Linked DNA regions of Homo sapiens. The protein of the gene in region 1 purifies or fractionates together with the protein of each later gene. This does not show direct contact. Each region holds a gene or a part of one and is shown on either strand. Other genes may lie near its edges.

Region 1 (3,500 bases):
CTACTAAAAATACAAAAATCAGCTGAGCGTGGTGGCGGGTGCCTGTAATCCCAGCTACTCGGGAGGCTGAGGCAGAGAATTGCTTGAACCCTGGAGGCGGAGGTTGCAGCGAGCAGAGATGGCGCCACTGCACTCCCACCTGGGTGACAGTGAGACTCCATCTCAAAAAAAAGAAAAGGAGACCTCTCTACCCCACCACCTGGGAACATCATTGGACAAGCTCATAGTCAAATTTTACTTGATCCGATAATACATCAGTGGGGAGTGAGGAGGGAACAGGGTTGCCCCTTTTTTTGGGAGGTGAAGGAAAACGGTTTGAGTTTTTTAACTTTTTGTTATGGAAAAATGCCAACATATAAGAAGGAAACACAGTGGTATAGTGAAGCCCCCTGTACCCTTCTCCCAGCTTTGTTATCAGCATTACATCATTCTTGTGCCATCTGTTCCTCACCCCATCTTCATGATGATGACCTTCATTATAGTTGTTTTGGGTAAAATTGACAGACATTGAATCACATGAATGCAGCCATACAATTTTGACCAGTGATTATACCCATGTAACCCAGGAATGTCAGCCCCATTATGATGTAAAACATTCCCATTTCTTTAGAAAGTCCCTTAGGCCCCTTCCCAGTTGGAGGTTTGGAGGGTTTTGTTTGTGTTTTAATATTCTCAGAGGGCCTAATTAGTTTGTGTGTGTGGCGGGTCACCTAGCTAATGCTGTGAGCTGAAAAACGTCTGAGAGAAGATAGTACTGTTGTTCATCTCAAAATAACCCATCACAAACACTGAGCTTTCAATTCATTCAGAATATTTTTTTAGGAATAAATCTTGTAAGGTGAAAGTGCTGGGGAATATGTAACAGATCTTGTCTTCAGAGTTACTGAAATGTAAGATGTCTGCTTTTTCTCTTTTAAAGAATCCTCGCAAGGCTCGTGTAACTCGGCGTTTCATTGTAGTAGAAGGATTGTATATGAATACTGGAACTATTTGTCCTCTTCCAGAATTGGTAAGCAACCATGTTCAGCTGTAATTTTAATATTTGGACTATTTGACAGATGTGCCTTTTGTTTATGACCGCTTTTAGTGTATAACGTCTGCGTTGCTTTGCGCATTAGGCCTCATAAGCATATTTTGCTCAGATCAGGGAAGAAGAACAACACTGAATGCCAGTGCTGGCCTTCAAAGAGTAATCAAGACTGCTCTGTTGCCCAGGCTGGAGTGCAGTGGTGTGAACACAGCTCACTGCAGCCTTACCCTCCTGGGCTCAAGTGATCCTTCCACCTTAGCTTTCTGAGTTAGCTGGGACTACAGGCACATGCCACCACACCTGGCTGATTTTTCCCTTTTTTGTGGAGTAGGGGTCTCACTGCGTTACCCAGGCTGTTCTCAAACTCTTGGGCTCAAGCGATCCTCCTGCCTCAGCCTGCCAAAGTGCTGGTATTACAGGTATGAGCCACCACACCTGGCCAAAACTTAGCTTTAGCTTTTTTTTTCTCCCCCGCAAGACAGTCTTGCCCTGTCGTCAGGCTGGAGTGCAGTGGCGCCATCTTGGCTCACTGCAACCTCCTCCCCGAGGTTCAAGCAGTTCTCCTGCCTCAGCCTCCCGAGTAGCTGGAACTATAGGCGTGCGCAGACACCCCCAGCTAATTTTTGTATTTTTAGTAGAGACGGGGTTTCACCATGTCGGCTAGGATGGTCTCAATCTCTTGACCTCATGATCTGCCCGCCTGGGCCTCCCAAAATGCTGGGATTACAGGCATGAGCCACTGAGTCGGCCATACGTAGCTTTTAAGATCCAGCTTTATTTAGGTGAAATCAACGTATAAAATACACCTACTTTAAGGGTAAAGTTTGATAAGTTTTGACAGATGTATATACATCTGTATCACTGCAGCCATCCACCACCACAGTCAAGATACGGAATATTTTTATGTAAGACAATGTTTATCCAGAAAGAAAACTTTATCCAGAAAGCTTCCTGATGCCTCTTGGTAGTGAGTACCCATGTTGGCCCCAGACAGCCATTAATCTACTTTCTATTCCTGTAGATTAGTTTTACCTTTTGTAGAATTGCATATGAATGAAAGCATAGCTTGCTTTTTTGTTTTTTTGTGTTTTGTTTTTTGTTTGAGATGGAGTTTCACTTATGTTGCCCAGGCTGGAGTGCAATGGCACGATCTCGGCTCACCGCAACCTCTGGCTCCTGGGTTCAAGTGATTCTCCTGCCTCAGCCTCCCAGGTAGCTGGGATTACAAGCATGTGCCACCATGCCCGGCTAATTTTGTATTTTTAGTAGAGACAAGGTTTCTTCATGTTGGTCAGGCTGGTCTTGAACTCCCAACCTCAGGTGATCCACCCTCCTTGGCCTCCCAAAGTGCTGAGATTACAGGCGTGAGCCACCACGCATGGCCAAAACTTAGCTTTTTAATAGTGAAAGCAGCATAACTGTTTTTAGAAACCATGACCATTGAGATTTCCTTTATTGAGGTGAAATTCACATAACACAAAATTAACCAATTTAAATTGTACAGGACAGTGACATTTATTACATTTACCATGTGTGCAACCATCAACTTTAGGTCAAAAACCTTTTCATGACTCACGAAGAAGACCTCAAACCCATTAAACAGTCACTCCCCATTTTCTTCTCCCTCTAGCTCCCAGCAACTACCAATCTGCTTTCTGTCTCTATGGATTTACCTTTTCTGGTTATTTCCTATAAATGGCATCATATAATATATGACCTTTTCTTTCTGGCTTCATTCACTTGATGTTTTTAAAGTTCATTAACATTGTATACCATGTATCAGTATTTCATACCTTTTTAATGCTGAGTTATAGTCCATTGCATGGATAATACCACGTTTTGTTTTATATGTTCATCCACAGATGGATATTTGGGTTCTTTCTACCTTTTTGCTATTGCAAATAGTGCTGTTGTGAACATTTGTGTACAGGTATTTGTTTGAATTCCTGTTTTCAGTTCTTTTATGTATATATCTAGCAGGGTAATTGCTGGATTATATGGTAATTCTGTGTTTAACTTAATAAGGAACTGACATACTGTTTTCAACAGCGATTGCACCATTTTACATTCCTATCAGCTATATACCAGGGTTACAGTTTCTCTACATCTTTGTCAGCACTTATATTTTCCAGGGTTTTTTGTTGGTTTGTTTTAGCCACCCTAGTGAGCATGAGGTAGTATCTCACTGTGGTTTTGATCCTGTTTCCCCCAAATGGCTAATGATGCTGAGCCTCTTTTCTTGTTTTTTTTTTTGTTTGTTTGTTTGTTTGGCCATGCGTATACCTTTGGAGACATATCTATTCAGGTGCTTTGCCCATTTTTTAAATTGGGTTGTTTTTTTGTTTTTAAAAGAATTCCTTGTATATTCTGGATACTAGATGTTTATCAGATACATGATTTGCAAATATTTTCTCCTATTTTGTGGGGGTTTGTTTCATTTATTTGATACTGTCCTTTGACACACAGTTTT
Region 2 (3,500 bases), on another chromosome or scaffold:
CTATGTTGGCCAGGCTGGTCTCGAACTCCTGACCTTGTGATCTGCCTGCCTCAGCCTTCCAAAGTGCTGGGATTACAGGCATGAGCCACCGTGCCCGGCTTTACCTCTTTTTAAATTGGGTTGTCATTTTATTATGGATTGTAAGAGTTCCTTTAGTATCTTATTAGATATATGGTTTGTAAGTATATTCTCCTGTTCTGTGGGTTGTCTGTTCACTTTTCTTGAAAATATCCTTCGAAGCACAAAAGTTGTTTTGAGGAAATACATTTTTTGCTGCTGTTGCTGGTGCTTTAGTGTCCTACCTAAGAAACCATTGCCTAATCCGAGGTCACAAAGATTTCCACTATGTTTTCTTCTAAGAATTTTGTTGTTTTAGTCCTTGAGTTTAGGTCTTTCATACATTTTGAAATTTTTTTTTTTTAATAATAAGAGAGAGGGGGTTCAACTTCATTCATTTGCATATGGATATCCAGTTGTCCCAGCACCTTTTGTTGAAGACTGTTTACCATTAAATCGTCCATCGTCTATTTACCATTAAATTTTCTAGCACCCTTGTGGTTTAATATACAAATAATTATAAAAATCACTTACTATGGATACAACAGAAGGATTGGACATGCTTATCTTGCATTTCACATTAAAGCACCCTGGTATACTGTGTAACACAAAGCATCATGGCCAGGCATGATAACTCATGCCTGTACCCTCATGCACTTTCGGAGGCTGAGGTGGGAGAATCGCTTGAGGCTAGGAGTTCAAGTCCAGCCTGGGCAACAGCGAGACCCCGTCTCTATAAAAAAAAAAAAAGTGTGGTGGCACGCACTGGTAATGTTAGGTACTTGGAAGGCTCAGGTGGGGAGAATTGCTTGAGCCCAGGTTTGAGGTTGCAGTGAGCTAGGATTGTGCTACTGCACTCCAGCCTGGGCAACAGAGGGAGATCCTGTCTCTAAAATAAAAAGAAAAAGCGATATGAAATGACCACAACATACCACAGTTTGAGAAGGATGGGTTTACACAAGTAATCTAGAGAGTTTTTTGATGTTACTGCTGTTTCTTTTCCATTGTGAAATGAGGCTGGTGTTAGCTAGCCAGTGGGTACACTAGAGTCAGCAAAGATAGGCCTGGGCCATTTTGTGCTAGCTTTCTCCTTCCCTCCTGCTCTTCCTCTTTTCCTCCTTCCTGTAGTGGGACTTTAATACAGAGAATTGTTAACATAGGTGATGGAAGACTTGAGATGCCAAAAAGGGCATGATGAGGCAGTCGAGAGATTAGCAGCAGTAAGAAGCAAGTAGTGATATATAGAGGGATACAAGTAGGAGATGGTTCTTGGAGGCTGGGGACCAGAGTTACCTGGTGGGAACTGGGCTTGTCCAGAAGGAGCAGAAACATTTGGGAGATTCAGTCTTAGAGAGAAAGGTTCTCCTACCTTCCGGTCAAAGCCAATGGACAAGGGAGCTGCAGCTTATTTCTTAGTGAACGGAATATAAAACCATTCCTTAGAATAATTTCCTTACCTATAAAAAAATCAGTCTGGTTAATTCCAGCTTGTCTTTTTACTGAGAAGTAAATTTATTGAGTATATTTAAATATTTGTGAGATTTGGCCAGTCATGGTGGCTCAGGCCTATAATCCCAGCACTTTGGGAGGCTGAGGTGGGCAGATCACTTGAGGTCAGTAGTTCAAGACCAGCCTGGCCAATATGGTGAAACACCATCTCTACTAAAAATACAAAAATTAGCTGGACATGGTGGTGGGCACCTGTAATCCCAGCTACTCAGGCTGAGGCAGGAAAATCACTTGAACCCTGGAGGCAGAGGTTGAGTGAGCTGATATCAAGCCACTGCACTCCAGCCTGGGTGACAGAACGAGACTCCGTCTCAAAAAAAAAGATTAAAAAAAAATTTGTGTGATTTGACTATATATTAAAATCTCTTTCATAATTAGTCAACAATTTAAGCAACAATTAAATTATTAGTGCTGTGGAAAATATAGAAGAAAGATAATTTCTTATTCCCCTCCTGAGGAAAGCATTTGATACACCTGGAAAGGAGCTGCTATGAAGCCAATTTATCTGTTCTTTTTATCAATTCAGCAGCATTTAAGATCAGATTTTTTCTCTAGTGGTCCAGCAGAGGGAGCCCTAGCACATGAATTGTTTTCATTTTGTGCTTGCATCCAGGGTTAGTTTAGTGGGAAAGTGGTAGTCTATCCCTTTTAATTATAATTTAAGCAGTTCCTCCTTTCTTTTTTGAGACAGAGTCTAGCTCTGTCATCCAGGCTGGAGTGCAGTGGCGGCATCTCGGGTCACTGCAGCCTCCACCTCCCAAGTTAAAGCAGTTCTTGTGCCTCAGCCTCCCAAGTAGCTGGGATCACAGGCGTTCGCCACCAGGCCCAGCTAATTTTTGTATTTTTTGTAGAGATGGGGTTTTGCCATGTTGGCCAGGCTGGTCTTGAACTCCTGGCCTCAAGGGATCTGCCTGCCTCAGCCTCCCAAAGTGCTGTGATTGCAGGCGTGAGCCACCATGCGTGGCCTAGTAGATCCTCTTTTTCAAATTGTCAGAATAAGTTAGAAATAATTATCATTTTGTTCAAGGTGGGAGAGATGGTTGGGGGGGTGGTGAAAGTTTTTACACCATATGAGTAAGAAAGCATATTCTGATGCTGCTATCAATTCATAAGTGAGTGGTTTTGCTGTCATAATTTTCCGGTCTCACTGTCACCATGTTCATTCTTTTCTGTTGGATTATTTTAATTGTTTCATAACTAGTTTCCTTATTATCTGTCTTCTCAAATTATTTATGATATTGTCAGATTGATCTTCCTAAAGCACAGTTATAATCACTGATCCTCAGTCCTGAACGTAATTATATTTAAAATCTAAAGTGCTAATCTTGACTTTGAAAACCTTCTCTATGCTTTGCCCCTAGAATGCTTACTAGCATTTTCTCCTAACTGTTCCTCCATAAAAAGTACACTGTCGTGCTTGCAGTTTTTCACAGCTCTGCTTTTCTTTACACTGGAAGTCTTCTCCCCATTTTTTTAATGTCCAAATTATAGCCATCCTTCAAAACCCAGCGCAAAAGCTACTTCTTTCAAGATACCTTCTTTGATTTTCCTCACTGGAAAGAATCTCTTCCTTTTTCTTACACTCTTTACCTTTCTTATTGCACTTAGCTTTTAAAAGCTTGCATTATAAGTTGTTTACATACATGTCTTGTCACTGTACTAGATAAAGTATGAGCTCTATGAGTTAGGATCTGGCCATCTAGCCTAGCTTCGTATTTATTTTTTGAAACAGAGTCTTGTTCTATTGCCCAGGCTGGAGTGCAGTGGTGCGATTTTGGGTCACTGCAACCTCCGCTTCCCAGCCTGAGCAATCTTTTAGCCTCCGCCTCCTGAGTAGCTGGGACCACCGGTGCGAGACACCACTCTCGGCTCATTTTTGTATTTTTTTGTAGAGACAGGGTTTCGCCATGTTGCCCAGGCGGGTCTCAAGCTCT
Region 3 (3,500 bases), on another chromosome or scaffold:
GTTGTTAGGACTACATGCGTGTGCCTTCATGCCCAGCTAATTTTTTACTTTTTACTTTTTTGTAGAGACAAGGTCTTGCTGTGTTGTCCAGGTTGGTCTTGAGCTCTTGGGCTCAAGTGATAACTTCCATCTCGGCCTCCTAAAGTGCTGGGATTACAGGTGTGAGCCACCACACCCAGCAACTTTTAATATATCTTACTAAATCTACTTTCATGAGCTGTATATTAAATCTATAATAAAATAATTTCATAACATCTAGATTCCTGGGCGTCACTGTGGATTGACTGACTTATAATCTCTAGAGATAAAGCCTGGAAATTGGCACTTCTTTTAAAGAACGCCATAGTGATTTTGCTCCCTGAAAATTCAAGTAAAATGAGAAAGAACAAAAACCAAACAGGATAAAAAATAAAATTTGATAGCTCTTCTCTCCTGGGCTTTGGCATTTTACATAATGTGTCAGAAATATGGTGGATTTGCCTTTTGTAAAGCAAGGCCCCATATTGACTGGCCGATGCTGTTTCTCTCTGCAGGTGTGGCAGTTGGGCTCTTCGTCACCAAACTTCACTTTGGAAGGACATGAGAAAGGCGTGAATTGCATTGATTACTACAGTGGTGGGGACAAGCCATACCTCATTTCAGGTGCAGATGACCGTCTTGTTAAAATATGGGATTATCAGGTACAGTTTTTCATAACCTTACTTCCATATGTTAGATATGTTTCTTACTATTTCTTATAGGACAGTTAAGACTTGGGTTGTTGAAAACTGTTCACAGCATAATAACTTAAGGTATCAGTATTTGCACCTAAACTGTGTTCCCAGAATTCTCCATAAAAATGAAAACAATGCATATCAAGATTTTAAAAATAAAATACCAACATGTTCATATTTCATTTCATAATTGCATTTAGAAATTTTAACATTTTAATGTTGAATTATCCTCCATAATCTTCATTGATAGACTTCTATTCATTTTTGTAAGCTAGCAGATCAACAATTACCAACCATTTTGCCAAATCGTACTCTTGTAAACCTAGTTATGAATTCTTGTTAACATGCTTCCTATCTCTAAGATTTTCTTATATTTTGATATTTTTGTTTTCCACATCAAAAGTTCCCATAAGCAATTAATAAAATGAGGTCTAGAAAGTCAGTTTTTCCTTGAAACATTTTCAGATTTGTACTTAAATCCAGAATAAAAATATTAAAGGCTAAAGCAGCACTGTCTACTTAGCCAGTGATGGTAGGTGTGAGTTTTAAGGGGGAAATCTATTATCCTGAGAATTTGGGGGAATAATATTCAGACAAAAGCCTTCTTGGGTTTTTTTCCCCTTCTTTAAATGTGATAGTTACATTTACATTTATTTTACAAAGTAATTAGATAAAATATTCATATATACAACAAGATCATCCTATTTCAAAAATTTCTATATTGGATATTATTTAGATTTTCATGACTACTATCATTTATAATGTATCTGTACACTGAGAAAATTAAGGGCGGGCTGGTTACATGTTTTTCATTAATAAAACATGTTTTCTATGTCTTAATTACAGAATAAAACATGTGTGCAGACACTGGAAGGACATGCCCAAAATGTGTCTTGTGCCAGCTTTCATCCTGAGTTGCCAATCATTATCACAGGTTCAGAAGATGGTAAGTTAGAAGGGTATGTTTATTCCTGTGCTAGTAACTACTCAGTGGGCATTTAAAGCAAGTAATGTCTCTGCATTATAATTGTAGGTTTCCAAGGATTTTGATATTTTTATTAAAGTACCAGACTTAAGCTATAAAAGAGTAAAGGGGCATTATTTTCATCATCATCATCATCATCATCATCATCATCGTCATCATTCTCATGTATTTTGATTCTGTCACTTAAATAAGAGGACCGTCAGCTGTCCTAAAGAGAAACTGAAAAAGCATGTGCTTTGGAGTCAAACAAACCTGGGTTCAAAATCAGGCTCTGTTATGTCATGAATGTGTGTTTGGGCAAATTATGAAATGGAAACATATATATCTGCTTCATAAAATTATAGTGAGAAGAAATTGTGGGTAGAAAGCATCTGGCACATAGGAAACACTTTACCCAGGAAATCCTGTTATTATTTCATGTTTAAAATCGTAATTCTTAGTTTTTGTTTCTTATATGTTATGTGTTATGTTTATGTTGCTTTTAAAAATCATTTAAAGACAGTAGGTCAAAAAATTGGTCATTAAGCTGCCAGGAAGTGTTATCTGTTTGAATAGAAAGACTTCTATGGGTCTCTTTCACCTGACACAGTTTATTGTCGGATGTTTGTATCAAAAGGGAGTATTTACATTGTTCTTTTTAGGAACAGTACGTATTTGGCATTCAAGCACCTACCGGCTTGAGAGCACACTGAATTATGGAATGGAGAGGGTATGGTGCGTGGCCAGTCTAAGAGGGTCAAACAATGTCGCTTTGGGCTATGATGAAGGGAGCATCATTGTTAAGGTAATTATACTATCCCTCTCAGTAGGTGGACATAGGCAAAACCATTTTCTTTGTATTTTAGTACTGTCATCTTCCAAGTAACCAGTTTTATAAAACTGGCACTTCTTTCATTAAGCACTAGACATTAAGCAATGAAGATTTAAAGTGGAAGAAAGGAAATGGAGCTCTCTGTTAGGTGAAAAAAATAATCTGTTTTGTTTTGGTTTTATTCATTTTCCTTTTCATTGCTGAGAGCTATTTTTCTTTCTTTCAGCTTGGTCGGGAGGAACCTGCCATGTCCATGGATGCCAATGGAAAGATAATTTGGGCCAAGCATTCAGAAGTCCAGCAGGCCAACCTAAAAGCAATGGGAGATGCTGAAATTAAAGATGGTGAAAGATTGCCACTGGCAGTAAAGGATATGGGCAGTTGTGAAATATACCCTCAGACTATTCAGCACAATCCTAATGGGCGGTAAGCCATCACCAAAATTGTCCCTCAGCTTCTGTGTATGTTAGAACAGGTTTGCAGATCCACAGTCCACTCTTGCCCTGTGGTTGGCATCTCTAATCATTCCTCAATGTGCTTTTGCCCTGGCCTCACAATCCTCAACACAGCTGCAGTCAGCCATGCCACTTGATCAAGTTGGCACAAAAGATGGAGCATGTTTCCCATCTGGACTTGTTCTATACCACACAATTTTGAATAGTTAAATAGTAGTTTCCTGTTATTTCGCATGCATTGAGTTTGTGTTTTTGTGTGCTCCTTTGAGGGCAAGGAGTATGTCTTATGCTGAGACTTAGTAGGTGCCCTCTCTAAATGCTTGCTGACTCATTGCTCTTTCAAGAAGAAAACCTGACTCTGAGATATGTGTCTTTTGAAAAAGTTTTGGGATTGATAATAATTCTGTTTCTTATTTGTAATTCGAACTGTCAGTTGAATTTCTCCCTTAAGATTTGTAAGTCACCAAACATCTTGTGAGAGAGGAGTTTCTAGCACAGTGAAGTCTAAACCTGTGGAGCTTTAAAATTATTTTACA
Region 4 (3,500 bases), on another chromosome or scaffold:
TACTGGTTGGTGACATTTTTAAGTGGTAGTTATCAAGTTCACATATTCGTGACTCAGATTTCTCGTCTTGAAGCCAGACCTTCTACTGTTGCTGATGGTTTTGAGGTCAAGTGAAAGATAATACCAGGAGGATACCTTTATCAGGTGTGCATAAAAGAGGAGTATTTACTCTTTTTCTTTCTTCTTTCCTTTCTTTCTTCCTTTCTTTCTTTCTTGACAGAGTCTTGCTCTGTCTCCCAGACTGGAGTGCAATGGCACGATCTTGCAACCTCCACCTCCCGGGGTCAAGCAATTCTCCTGCCTCAGCCTCCCAAGTGGCTGGGATTACAGGTGCACGCCATCACACCCGGCTAATTTTCTTATTTTTAGTAGAGACAGAGTTTTGCCGTGTTGGCCAGGTGGGTCTCGAACTCCTGACCTCAAGTGATCTGCCTGCCTCTGCCTCCCAAAAGTGCTTGGATTATAGGCGTGAGCCACCGTGCCCAGCCAAGTATTTACTCTTTATATGCCCTGTTCTGTATGAAATGAACAGGGTTACATTGGGATAAATTTCTTGATTCACTAAAGCCGCTGTGCTCTTCCTAGTGGTTGCTTTGAGTGAGACAGAGGCTTCACACTTTTAAAAAGATATTCCTGAGTGCAGTGGCCCACACCTGTAATCTTAGCACTTTGGGAGGCTGAGGTGGGCGGATTGCCTGAGCTCAGGAGTTCAAGACCACCCTGGGCAACATGGTGAAACTCCATCTCCACTAAAATACAAAAAATTAACCCCTTCTCCACTAAAATACAAAAAATTAGATGGGCGTGGTGGCACACACCTGTAGTCCCAGCTACTCAGGAGGCTGAGGCAGGAGAATTGCTTGAACCCGGGAAGCAGAGGTTGCAGTGAGCCAAGATGGTGCCACTGCACTCCAGCCTGGGCGACAGAGTGAGACTCTATCTCCAAAAAAAAAAAAAAAAAAAAAATGTTGGAGATCATCACATATTAAAGAGAATTTGAGACACTGTTTTTTTCTAAATGATAAATTGCCTCTTGAGCACAGAGCAAACTTTTGTGAAGGTAAAATGGTACCATGCATTGTCTTAAGATGCACTCCTTTATGGTCTTGACTCTGATGCCTTTGTTTCTAGGAAGACCTAAGAGGTTGGAACAAAGAACATGGTAGGATAACAAAATATTTTTTGTAGCCTCTGTAGTTCATCCAGCCAAACGTATGTCTATTACTGAATATGAATAGATTGTACTTAATACTTGCCTCTAGCAGCAGCAGTTTTTAATCTTTTAAAAATTGGATTATACATTCATATAGTACAAAATTCAAAAGTTGTTAACAGTCAGAAGTCTTCCTCTCACTCAGCCATGCCAGTTTCTCATTTTGGAGACAACTAGTATTAACAGAGTTTTTTGTGTATCCTTCTAAGGGGGATGGTCTGTGATATACAGATGAATAAAAAACATGTATACAGTGTGTCTATTTTTCCCCCTTTTATGCAAAGCAGTAAAACTAGACACGTCTTCCAATTGCATTTTTCATTTAATTATTTTGGAGATAAGAATCTCCTTATTTGAAACTGCAGAGATATGACATCTAAATGCGCAATACCTTACCCTAGACTGGATCCTCTACTAATGTAGTGTAGAAAAAACAACTCAAACTGTTTGTTTTTTCTATTTTCTCATTCAACAGCAACAATGAACACAGAAGACTTCTGTGATCAAGTGTGTTTAGATTTTTCCGCACACATCAAGCGGTCACACCTAGCTGGTGTCCTCCAATTCAATTCAATTCTGATGCTATCTACCTGGGAATAGCCTCAGATTCTACAGGTTGAGAGTTCAGTCCCCCAAGACTGATTCTTCCTTCCCACCAGTCATAAGTCCAGACTTTCAGAACTTCTTACTGACCTCAAGTTTGGCCTCCCACGACCCCCTCTGGGGTGTTCAATTAATCTGCTAGAGCACCTCACAGAACTCAGGGAAACTTACTTGACATTTATCAGTTTGTTACAGAGGACATTTTAAAGGATGCAAATAAGCAGCCAGATGAAGAGATACATAGGGCAAGGTCTGGGAGGGTCTTGAGCACAGGAGCTTCTGTCCCCAGGGAGCTGGGGTACGCCACCCTCCTGGAAAATAGATGAGACCTTGTTCATCTTCCTGTAAGCCTGCATGTGTTCAGCTGTCCAGAAGCTTCCCAGACCCTGTCCTCTTGAGCCTTTTATGGAGACTTCATTGGATAGGCATGATTGACAGGCATGCAGAAATGTGACTGGGCAAGGGTATGACCTAATACTGATAGGCTGAGTGGGGAAACACAGCAAGGCCTGTCCAAATTCTTGGCCTCTCTGTGCAGCATTAATCTTCCTCCAGGATATGGTGCAGGACCCCTTTTGGAGATCCTGCCTTGGGCTGGTGAAAGGAGGGCAGGAGAAGGTCAAAGAGAGGTTCTTTTTTCTAAGGGCTGCTCCTGAGGCCTAAAGTGCCCCAACATTATGTATAATAAGGGATATGGGAGTTATGAGCTAGGAACCATGGATGAAAACCGGTATGTATGTATATCATAATATCACAACTACTATTAAAAATATTATTAGGTCAACTGACGAAATTGACATATGGTTGACAGATCGGATACAATTATTGTATCATTGTTAGCCTGGCATGATGGCACATGGCTGTAGTCCTTCCTACTCAGGAGGCTGAGGCAGGAGGATCACTTGAGACCAGGAGTTCAAGGTTATAGTGAACTGTGATTGTGTCTCTGAATAGCCACTGCACTCCAGCCTGGGCAACATAGCAAGATCTGTCTCTTAAACAACAACAACAGGCTGGGTGCGGTGGCTCACGCCTGTAATCCCAACACTTCGGGAGGCCGAGGCAGGCAGATCACCTGAGGTCAGGAGTTCAAGACCAGCCTGGCCAGCATGGTAAAACTCTGACTCTAGTAAAAATACAAAAATGAACCGGGCGTGGTGGCAGGTGCCTGAAATCCCAGCTACGCAGGAGGCTGAGACAGGAGAATCACTTGAACCCGGGAGGCAGAGGTTGCAGTGAGCCGAGATCACGCCATTGCACTCCAGCCTGGGCAAGAAGAGTGAAACTCTATCTCAAAACAACAACAACAAAAAGCTAAAAAAACTATCAGTGTAAATTTGTGAAGTTAATAATGGTACTGTGATTGATTATGTAAGAGAATATCCCTAATCTTATAAAATAAGCACTGAAGTATTTAGGGGTAAAGTGCCGTGTTGTATATAATCTGCTTCTTAATGGTTCAGGGAAAAAAAATCAAATGTATAACATACATATATAATGTTTAGAGAGAGAGAAACACAAGTGCAAATTATAAAACAAATGAGGTAAATATTAACAATAGGTGAATCTGGAAAAGGGTATATATGTCTTCCTTGTATAATTTTAATTTTTTTAAGCTTGAAAATACTTACAAATAGAAAGTTTTTTCAGTTGTTTGTTTTCTCACCATTGCCTACTATTCATT
Region 5 (3,500 bases), on another chromosome or scaffold:
GTTTGTTACATGTAATATAAATTTCAGTGTAATATTTAGGGTTTTTTTGTTTATACTTTTTTAATGAGACAGGATCTCGCTATATTGCCCAGGCTGATCTTGAACTGGGCTAAAGCAGTCCGGCCTCAGCCTCCCAAGTAGTTGTTATTACATGCTAATACTCAGTTTTCAAACTGAAAATGTATTGCTCTCTAAATTAAAAAACATACCAGGGATACATGTTTAAAATACTTAGAATGTGTTCGAGTTCTGTATTGCTTATGAAGAAATCTACCAAAGTTATATAATTTTATGTTGTATAGAAAATTACTTAATATTTGCTTAACTTGTCTTGGTTTTTGTACCTCATGAAGTTTTTGTGTTTTTTTGTTTTTTTTTTTTTGAGACAGAGTCACTCTGTCGCTCAGCCTAGAGTGCAGTGACCCAGATCTTGGCTCACTGCAACCACCGCCTCCTGAATTCAAGCAATTCTCCTGCCTCAGCCTCCTGAGTAGCTGAGACTACAGAAGTGCATCGACATACCTGGCTAATTTTTGTATTTTTAGAAGAGTCAGGACTTCACCATGTTGGCCAGGCTGGCCTTGAACTCCTGACCTCAAATGATCTGCCTGCCTCAGCCTCCCAAAATGGCTGGGATTACAGGTGTGAGCCACTGTGCCCAGCCCCTCATGAGTTTTTTAAATGTTTTGATACAGATATTAGGTATTACTGATATTTAAATAAGTGTATGGCTAAACTTGGTTTAATCAAACTTTAAATATAACATTACTTTAAATGCAATATAAAAATATATTTTAATTATTTAGGCTTTCCTTTGTGTTCTAGCATATTCCGTTCAGGGCCAAAGTGTTATGATGATAAGTCCATCAAGTGAATCTCACCAACAAGTTGTGGCAGTGGGTCAACCTTTAGCAGTCCAGCCTCAAGGGACAGTAATGGTAATGTACTTGTATTTTTCTTGGTTATCAATTAGCTATCAAGGAAACTTGTTGTACCTATCTTTGTGTTTGCCAAAATGTGTCATACATTTATTTACTTTCTTTTACTAGAACTACTTTCTTAAACTAGAAGAAACTAGTTTATGCAGTTGACATTACTGTAACCAATATGATAATACAACTTTTAATCAAATGAATTGTTCCTTATAAAACCTTCCAAATCTTTTTCTTAATTTTTTCTTTAAAAAAATCTTTTAACACATTAATGCTACTTTATAAGCTTTTAATTTTTAAGAATACATAACAATTATTGAAAATGTATCCTTTTTAAAATATAGCTGACTTCCAAAAATATCCAGTGTATGAGGACTTTACTTAACTTGGCGCATTGCCATGGGGCTGTTCTTGGAACATCATGGCAACTTGTCTTGGCAACTCTTCAGGTATGTAAAAGTGTCTAGGTCAGAGATTAGTGTTGTTTTTATATATAATTGCTAACAGTTAGACTAAGCAATGTATTTTGATGTTTTGGACAGGCCTAAAAAATAGATAGTAAGTATGAAAAAAGAGAAGTTAGAAAGGGAAAAAGATGTGACTCATATTGTAGGAAGTGGTGGAATGCTTCTCATAATGGCCTAAGCTCTGCTGCATATGTTCGATATCATTAATTATTTTATATGAATGTTAATTAGTGATTTTAGTTTTAGGTTTTAAAAACCTACTACTGATTTTAATTTTGGTTGCTAGAAGTTACTACTGATTTTAATTTTAGTTATTGGACCTTTTATACTTTTGTAAAGTTATTTGTTTTGATTTTTTTTTAATTTTACAGCATCTTGTGTGGATTCTGGGATTAAAGCCTAGTAGTGGCGGTGCCTTGAAACCTGGGAGAGCTGTAGAAGGACCCAGTACAGTAAGCTCTAGTCTTTCTTACCCAATTAGTGCATCCCAAAGTGTCATATATTACATTTAATTTTATTCTTCTCAGGTTCTAACAACAGCAGTGATGACAGATTTACCAGTGATTTCCAATATACTTTCAAGATTGTTTGAAAGCTCACAGTAAGAGTCAGTTTTTTTAATTGATAAAAACATTGTTATTTGTTATATATTTTAGATCAAGATGTCTTATTTCTTCATTTCCTTTTTAGGTATCTTGATGATGTATCACTGCATCATTTAATAAATGCACTTTGCTCCTTGTCTCTAGAAGCAATGGATATGGCCTATGGAAATAATAAGGTGTGATATTCTACCTTTCTGTTTTAGATATGATACATTAGTTATATAAGATGTACATCCATTATGATCTTAGTGTTTTACTAGTAGAACTAACACTCAGATTGTATGGTAACCATACTCTGTTGGGTTTTTACCACTTATCGTTATTTGTCGAAGGAGTAAAAAGGACATGATTTGGCTTGTGATATGTCTAAATATGTCATATGATTTTAAGTTGTGTTCATTTCTCTTATATACTGAACATTTTAAAAATATTTTTATAAAATAATATAATACAGTTTTATAGGTTATATAAAATGTCATGATAATACTTGTAATTACAATTTATGATTGGGGTAATATAAGATTTAAATTAAAGAATGTTTGTCTCAGTTTCCTTTGCTTTCATTGGGATGGAAAGTAAGGAGCTAATCATTTCTTTCTAAAGGTAATGATTCTCCTTATCTTGAAAATTTAAATTTTTATTTGTTCATTGATTAAATGAATAAAACGGTACTTTTGAATATTAACATTCAAGAACATTTCTTTCTATACTACTAAAAATATCACTTTCTGTTATACTTGGAAAGCACAGGAACAGTTGTATTTATTTATATGTTAGAAATAATTAAACAAAATACTTTCCACATTTTAAAATCAATAAATATAGTTTGACTATTTACAAATAAGTGAAAATAACCCAAAATATGATTTAAAAGCTAAAATTTATATAATTTAAAGCTATAACATGTAACTGTAGCATTCAAAATTATGTTGTCTGCCTAGTCTTTTTTTTTTTTTGAAACGGAGTCTCGCCTTGTCGCCCAGGCTAGAGTGCAGTGGCGCAATCTCGGGTCACTGCTCTGCCTCCCAGGTTCATGCCATTCTCCTGCCTCAGCCTCCCAAGTAGCTGGGACTACAGGTGCCCGCCACCACGCCCGGCTAATTTTTTTATTGTATTTTCAGTAGAGACAAGGTTTCACTGTGTTAGCCAGGATGGTGTCGATCTCCTGACCTTGTGATCCGCCCGCCTCAGCCTCCCAAAGTGCTGGGATTACAGGCATGAGCCACCGCGCCCGGCCATCTGCCTAGTCCTTAAGTGTAATTTTGGGTACTGTGGCTTGTTATCTTGGCTCTTATGACTCATTTAAAGATTGGTGAAGAAAGTCTCATTAGAGCATAGTTTCATATATTATAGTACCTAGCTAGATAATTATATAAACATGCAGGTGTTTGAAAGTATGTATTATGGCTGGGCATGGTGGCTTACGCCTGTAATCCCAGCACTGCAGGAGGCCGAGGCAGGCAGATCACTTGTGGTCAGGAGTTCGAGACCAGCCT
Region 6 (3,500 bases), on another chromosome or scaffold:
AATACAGTATATTTGCCTTTCTGAACCGTACAGTAGAAACCTACAGTGGTTGCTTTATTAAGTGCTACCTCACCCTTAGAGGTATTAATGCTTCACAGGATTCTTGGCCCAGCTTTAAAAATGAATGATTCATTTTGATTCAGTAGGTATTTAGTAAGGACTAAGCATGAGCTACATACTTTTGTTCTCTAATTCTTTTAATGGAGGAATAATAATCACAAACATTTTTACATAAAAACAATTTAAAAAATATTGGGGCAGTAGATATATGGCCAGATAAGATTTTATTATTTTTCACTGAAAAGATGTATAAAATAAACTGTTTTGATATTCTAAACACTAGTTAAGTACATATGGTTTGAAGGAAATAATGAGAGGATGATTATTCTCTTATATTCTAATATCTATGTGGTCTGGAATAGATGTTCTTAACTTTTTGGGGGTCCTATACCCCCGATGATTTGAAAACATATACTTTCTGTTTTATAATTCACTTTAAAGTCCATATGAAAATGGTTTCGTAGAGCTTACAGAATAAATACTCCTTGGCGTAATGTCATCTTCCAACATTTCTAATGTTGGAAGTGTCCAATGTCTAATGTCTTGCGGTGTCCCAGTGCTTATTCCGAGTGTATTCAGGCTAATGGGAAAACAAACATCATGCAAACAACTCTAACATGATATATTGTACTGTAATCGTATTTTCAATAAAATTGTATACAACTACATAAAGAGGAGATTAATTATTACTAATGAGGTAGGTTTTTCTAAGGAATTGTTATTTGAGCTGAACCTTTAAGAATGAGGTAATGAAGTAGCATCAAGACTTTTGGCACAGCAACAAGGAACCTTTCCCTCCCCTGCCATTTGCTGAGTATTCTGATTGTACCTTTGATAGCAATTTCTGCCCTACTTTCTAGCTGTTTATGCATTTTTTTTCCTTATCATCTCTTGGAGGATTGAATTTTTCCAAGGCTTGGGTACATCTCATTCAATTTCATATGTGCATATATGTCCTATGTCTTGTACATATAAGCCACCTATTAAATGTTTGATGGGTTAAATCCAATTGAACATGAGTCCTTTCCTCCATAGCTTACGTGTTATTGTAGCTAAACGACTTCTGAATTGCCTACTGGAATAACTAGGAAGTAGACTAAGCCTTGAAAGGAAGGGCTTGGTTAAGTTGGTATCATATAAAATTTCAAATCCCTAATTTTTCTATATAATCATTAAAAGTAGAGGTAGGAAAAATGACATCACATTGTGGCGTCTAGAAGGAAAAACTTTGTGTCATGATAATATTTAGGCATTATCCCTTTACATAAAGTGCCTCAAGCAGTGATCCTGAATGAAACACTGCCTATGAGTCTAAATGGGTATCATAATCTCAAGGAAACCAAATCTATAGATTGGTTTTTTTCTACCCTATTGATAAAAAAAATTATATGTTTAGACATATGATCTGACAGAATGGCTTTTAGTAATGTTATTTGCTTTGAGTTTTTAAAACTGACTTCAGAAGAAATGCTATTGAGGCACAATAGCGATTTAAAAAGGGAATTGAGTGGAACATTATACCTATTATATCAAACTATTTTTATTGCTTTGGAAGAGAACTATTAAGGCAAAGGCAGTCATCATATTAAATATCTCAAAACTATTTTTCCCAATAGATTTTAATCATTTTATTGTTTTCTACCACTTTGTATGTCTTTATCATTTTTTAAGTATCATCAAATTTACTAATATACCCTGAAGAAAAACCTCCTGTACATTGGGGAAAAAGTAATCCTATTTCCTAATAGGAAAAGTGTAAGAAAATCTGAATGTAAAGATATGAAGCTACCCTGATAATTATTTTTAGTTTAACGAATAGAAATGCAAACAGGTTACTTTCAGTTGACCTTTTACCAATTCTCACTTAATATTTTTATACCCCAGAAAGTTCTATTTTATTATAAAGAAACTGGCTACAGCCTTTCACTATTATATGAAAGCTTAAAACGAACTCAGTTAAATCACACACTCTCACAAACAGCTTGGAACCTCGTTAATGCTACTGACAAAGACTAATTTTGTATTTAATATTGATCATTTATAACCCCTTGCTTGTTTTCCAGGGGATGTACGTATTTTTGCATGCAGTGAAAGGAACACCTTTCGAAACTCCTGACCAGGGTAAAGCAAGGCTCCTAACTCATTGGGAACAACTGGACTATGGAGTACAGTTTACATCTTCACGGAAGTTTTTCACAATTTCTCCAATAATTCTGTAAGTGGCAGAAATTTTTAGGTATGAGGAGGATTGGATAAGAGGAAGATATCTTTTCATCAGATTGAATTGGAATTAGAAACATATTTTGTTGCAAACTTCTATCAATAAGTAGCACCTCGGATAGAACATAAAATATAGACAAAATTTTTAACAAGTTGATAATAAACTAATTTTCACTTCAGTCAGTACATATACGGAGACAATATTACATGCTAATCAGTGCACCTAGACATTTAGGATATACAGGTCAAATGTATTCCAGCTCCCGTCCTTAGGTTTCATATAAGGACACAAAATACATAATCATATTCTATATTGCACTGTCAGATTAATCTCCTTAAGCAATGATTTAGATAATGAGAAGAATTTCACTGGCCACCTATCCTATTAAGATATTCAGACTCCTTGGGAAAGAGTATGGTTTCGAAAAAAGTAGGTCAGGCTTTCATTATAGGATAGACCTGGGTGGAGTCCTATATATATCACTCAGCCAGCTTGGTTTGCTCATATATAAAATTCTAGCTAGTGATACCTAATTCAATCCTAATGCTGTAAGAAATAAATGAGATAATAATCTACCTGGATAGCATGTAACCTGTATCTGGTATCTAATTTCTTTCTCCTATCTGATGTTCTGGGCCTTCCAGAAAATAGTTCTTACCTCCTTTTCCCTTGATGTAAATATTTTATCCCCACCCAACTCCTACCTGGCCTTCTAAGCAGCATTTCTTGAATATTTCATGTGTAGTCCTATTTCTGTCTTTGTTCAAATCAGTTCAAATCATATCTCCTACCTGAAATGCCTCCTCCTTTTTTCCCCAGCTTTACTGAGGTATAATTGACAAATAAAAAAATGTATATATGTTTTATTTTGTCTCTCCAAAGAATTTATAAGTGCATGGATTGCTTTGAATCCCACAGTAAGTACAGTGGCCTACACATAATAGAGGTATTGCTCATATATCTTAATACTCTGTACCATCTAGCCTATACATAATAATGTCCATGATAGAGTCAGTGCAGCCTGGCATAGCACAAAAGACTTCTTGGAGGTGTTGGAAATCCTTATGTTAGAACTTAAGAGAGACTAGGTTTTAGATATTTAAGTAAGGGAAGGCATTTTTAAAGTGAAAGGAATAAACTGATCATAAAATAATGGGGTTCTTTTTCCTTAATTTATAGCCCTTTGAGGAAATTTTGAATTGATTTAGTCCCATATAAT
Region 7 (3,500 bases), on another chromosome or scaffold:
GTAATCCCAGCACTTTGGGAGGCAGAGGCGGGCACATCATCTGAGGTCAGGAGTTTGAGACCAGCCTGGCCAACATGGTAAAACCCTGTCTATACTAAAAATAACAAAAATTAGCTGGGTGTGGTGAAGTGCGCCTGTAATCCCAACTACTTGGGAGGCTGAGGCAGGAGAATCACTTGAACCCAGGAGGCAGAGGTTGCAGTGAGCTGAGATCGTGCCACTGCACTCCAGCCTGGGCAACAGAGTGAGACTCTGTCTCAAAAAAAAAAAATGTTTTTCTAAAGTGAATCAGTATTATATTTTTTTATCTTTTCGGTTTGTACTGTATTGACTATTCTTAGCGACAGTGACATACTCATTTTAATTTGAATATAATTTACATTTCGTGGAAAATTATTATACCAATTGAGAATAAAAGGTGATCTGATTCTAGAAAATTATCACCATATTTGTTTAATCCATGAGAATAATAATGGTTATAAAAATAAAACCCCATGGCAGGTAAATGCAGTGCTGATCTTGGATCAGAACAACAGCAACAACAAATTTCTATGAAGGACATTATTGGGACAGATTGAGAAATATGAATATGGTGTGTATATTAGTTAATAGTATTGATCAGTGTTAAATTCTCTGATAATTATAATGTGGTTATATAAGAAATTATCCTTACCCTTGAGAGAGATACACTAAAATTATCAGCAGTAAAGAGCAAATGTGGGCCAGGTGTGGTGGCTCATGCCTAAAATCGCAGCACTTTGGGAGGCTGAGGCAGGTGGATCACCTGAGGTCAGGAGTTCGAGACCACCCTGACAAATATGGTGAAACCCTCCCTGTCTCCATTAAAATACAAAAATTAGCTGGACATGGTGGTGTGCAACTGTAGTCCCAGCTACTCAGGAGGCTGAGACAGGAGAATTGCTTGAACCCAGGAGGCAGAGGTTGCAGTGAGCCAAGATCTTGCCACTGCACTCCAGCCTGGGTGACAGAGCAAGACTCCATCTCAAAAAAAAGAAAAGAGCAAATGTGGGAAGATATTAACTGGTGAATGTAGGTGAAGGATATACAGGAGTTCACTCTTAGAACTTTTTTATCAGTTTCGAATTGTTTTTAAGTGTGCATCTTTTAAATGTTACATTTTCCTATGGAGTCAAATAATATCACATTTAACGAAATTGTTAATAATTTATGAATGTTATCTAATACCAAGTCTATATGTAGATTTTCCCAGTTATCCCAAAAGCCCTTTTTGTTTAGTTTGCCCATTTTGTGACCATGTATCGTATTTGGTGGTTATGCCCTTTCAGTCTCTTAATTTTGGACAGTATCTTTTTTTTATGACACTGATTTGTTGAAGAGACCAGACCAGTAATACTATAAAATGCCCCTCTTTCTGGATGTGTATGGCTACTTTCTTACGTTGTTTAGCTTGTTCTTTGACTTCTGTTACTTTCTATAAACTGTAAGTTGGAGCTTTAGCTTTAGCTTGACAGAGTCAAAGTAAACATTATCAGTTTGAATGTGTCATGTGCTATTATTTCATATTGCAGTGTATCAGGAGACCCAAACTATCTAGTTCTTCCACCACTAGTGGTTTTGTTATTGATTAAAGAATTAAAGTGATGATAGATAAACCCCACCATTCTGCAGTGAAGATTTTTTTCCTGTGACCAGAAAGATTGGTGTTAATTCTTGATTTTTTCTTCTTTTTTAGGATCTGGTTATGGATATCCTAAGAGTATTGAGCACACCAGACTTAGAAGTACGAAAGAAAACTCTGCAGTTAGCACTGGATCTTGTCTCTTCTAGAAATGTTGAAGAGGTAAAAGGAAACTCTGACAGCACTTTGTAGCTATCAGGCCCAAATATGATGTAACTCTCACTTATTTTTACTTCATTCTATAAGCTGGTTATTGTCCTGAAGAAGGAAGTGATAAAAACAAATAATGTGTCTGAGCATGAAGATACTGACAAATACAGACAACTCCTAGTGCGAACATTGCATTCCTGTTCTGTCCGATTTCCAGATATGGCTGCAAATGTTATTCCTGTGGTATGTAATTCTGATGACTTTAATTTTGAAATTATCTAAAAGAATTTTTTAAAAAATATAGTTATTTGACAAACTCCAGAAATCTCAGCTGCCTAGAACCATTAAATCTCATGGTGAGAAGTGATCTTTATATCTACCTCTACCTTTAAACTCAGAAGGGTGAGGACTGACTTCTTTCACTTATATATTCATCAAAAAAACAAAAACAGTGACCAAAAAAAAGCTTTGCATATTATTTTAATTGATGATACAGTTACCTAAAGTAAAATTATGCTGTGTATATATATTATTCAGTAAGGCAAATAGGTATTTATTTTAAATAGCTTTAGCTCTTAAAGGAATCAGTTATAGGAAAAATTCACATATGTAGAATATTTTGCTGTCACTGTCAGATAAGTGAGGTATGTTATTATAATTTGATTTTTGCCTTTGAGCTCTTGAGTTCTCTCTAAAATGATTTTAGTTACAATTTAGGAGGATCGAATTCATTTATTTATTTGGAGTTTTGGATCTCTAGCTTATCTTTTATAGTGAATTTTAAAATAAATTTTGCTGCACATAAAATGGAAAAGCCATTGTGACTTTGTTTACATAATAGTACTTGTCTCTCAATTTACATTTTGTTGTGTATTTGAAAATTATTAAGAATTACAAGGGTCAGGCATGGCACTTCATGTCTGTAATTCGAGCACTTTGGGAGGGCTAGGCAAGAGGATTACTTGAGGCCAGGGATTCAAGACCAGCCAGGGCAATATAGGGAGACCCTGTCTCTACAAAAAAATTAATATTAGCTAGGCATAGTGTCATGCCTGAAGTCCTAGCTCCTGGGGAGGCTGAGGCTGCCAGAGGATCACTTGAGCCCAAGAGTTCAAGGCTGCAGTGAGCTATGATTGTGCCACTATTCTCTAGCCTGGGCAGCAAAGCAAGACCCTGTCTCTTAGAAAACAAAAAAAGAATTACATTCTTTTAATTTATTTCTTGTCCTAGATAATTTTCTTTTCGAAAATTGTTAGTTCCATTTTCTTTTTTTTTTTTTTCTTTTAGTTAATGGAATTTCTCAGTGACAACAACGAAGCAGCAGCTGCTGATGTCTTGGAGTTTGTTCGTGAAGCCATTCAGCGCTTTGATAACCTGAGAATGCTTATTGTTGAGAAGATGCTTGAAGTCTTTCATGCTATTAAATCTGTCAAGTAGGTTTAAAATACATTTAAATGTAAGGTCAAGTAAGCATTTTATCAGTTTTTATCTTTAAAGGGTCAGTTGATAGAAAATAGAATGGAGAGGACAATCAAGCCAAAATAAGACAAGTTTGTACAACAAGCATCTCGCTAACTCCACTCTCATTTAGTCTATAATAAATGGCCCAAAATAATTTTTTTAGGAGTGATTTAGCTCAGGGTCTCTATTCTGATTTTCTCTAAAACATTGTGAATCTTAAAGTAACTAA

The links.
Region 2: the proteins of SPTLC1 (region 1) and NSRP1 purify together in Homo sapiens (affinity purification with mass spectrometry; one large-scale study listed by BioGRID and IntAct). This does not show direct contact.
Region 3: the proteins of SPTLC1 (region 1) and COPB2 purify together in Homo sapiens (affinity purification with mass spectrometry; one large-scale study listed by BioGRID and IntAct). This does not show direct contact.
Region 4: the proteins of SPTLC1 (region 1) and ARCN1 purify together in Homo sapiens (affinity purification with mass spectrometry; one large-scale study listed by BioGRID and IntAct). This does not show direct contact.
Region 5: the proteins of SPTLC1 (region 1) and MON2 purify together in Homo sapiens (affinity purification with mass spectrometry; one large-scale study listed by BioGRID and IntAct). This does not show direct contact.
Region 6: the proteins of SPTLC1 (region 1) and ORMDL1 purify together in Homo sapiens (affinity purification with mass spectrometry; one large-scale study listed by BioGRID and IntAct). This does not show direct contact.
Region 7: the proteins of SPTLC1 (region 1) and COPB1 purify together in Homo sapiens (affinity purification with mass spectrometry; one large-scale study listed by BioGRID and IntAct). This does not show direct contact.

The regions. Positions count from the first base shown.
Region 1 is NC_000009.12:92,052,914-92,056,413, reverse strand, and holds part of SPTLC1 (serine palmitoyltransferase 1), read left to right. Parts: intron 1-919; coding exon 920-1,009; intron 1,010-3,500. UniProt on the Homo sapiens protein: Component of the serine palmitoyltransferase multisubunit enzyme (SPT) that catalyzes the initial and rate-limiting step in sphingolipid biosynthesis by condensing L-serine and activated acyl-CoA (most commonly palmitoyl-CoA) to form long-chain bases.
Region 2 is NC_000017.11:30,123,316-30,126,815, forward strand, and holds part of NSRP1 (nuclear speckle splicing regulatory protein 1), read left to right. Parts: intron 1-3,500. UniProt on the Homo sapiens protein: RNA-binding protein that mediates pre-mRNA alternative splicing regulation.
Region 3 is NC_000003.12:139,372,648-139,376,147, reverse strand, and holds part of COPB2 (coatomer subunit beta'), read left to right. Parts: intron 1-533; coding exon 534-680; intron 681-1,559; coding exon 1,560-1,659; intron 1,660-2,339; coding exon 2,340-2,482; intron 2,483-2,735; coding exon 2,736-2,935; intron 2,936-3,500. UniProt on the Homo sapiens protein: The coatomer is a cytosolic protein complex that binds to dilysine motifs and reversibly associates with Golgi non-clathrin-coated vesicles, which further mediate biosynthetic protein transport from the ER, via the Golgi up to the trans Golgi network.
Region 4 is NC_000011.10:118,585,909-118,589,408, forward strand, and holds part of ARCN1 (coatomer subunit delta), read left to right. Parts: intron 1-3,500. UniProt on the Homo sapiens protein: Component of the coatomer, a cytosolic protein complex that binds to dilysine motifs and reversibly associates with Golgi non-clathrin-coated vesicles, which further mediate biosynthetic protein transport from the ER, via the Golgi up to the trans Golgi network.
Region 5 is NC_000012.12:62,536,326-62,539,825, forward strand, and holds part of MON2 (protein MON2 homolog), read left to right. Parts: intron 1-825; coding exon 826-938; intron 939-1,276; coding exon 1,277-1,381; intron 1,382-1,770; coding exon 1,771-1,851; intron 1,852-1,926; coding exon 1,927-2,000; intron 2,001-2,089; coding exon 2,090-2,180; intron 2,181-3,500. UniProt on the Homo sapiens protein: Plays a role in regulating membrane trafficking of cargo proteins. Together with ATP9A and DOP1B, regulates SNX3 retromer-mediated endosomal sorting of WLS away from lysosomal degradation.
Region 6 is NC_000002.12:189,774,340-189,777,839, reverse strand, and holds part of ORMDL1 (ORM1-like protein 1), read left to right. Parts: intron 1-2,123; coding exon 2,124-2,275; intron 2,276-3,500. UniProt on the Homo sapiens protein: Plays an essential role in the homeostatic regulation of sphingolipid de novo biosynthesis by modulating the activity of the serine palmitoyltransferase (SPT) in response to ceramide levels.
Region 7 is NC_000011.10:14,479,312-14,482,811, reverse strand, and holds part of COPB1 (coatomer subunit beta), read left to right. Parts: intron 1-1,714; coding exon 1,715-1,822; intron 1,823-1,906; coding exon 1,907-2,053; intron 2,054-3,097; coding exon 3,098-3,243; intron 3,244-3,500. UniProt on the Homo sapiens protein: The coatomer is a cytosolic protein complex that binds to dilysine motifs and reversibly associates with Golgi non-clathrin-coated vesicles, which further mediate biosynthetic protein transport from the ER, via the Golgi up to the trans Golgi network.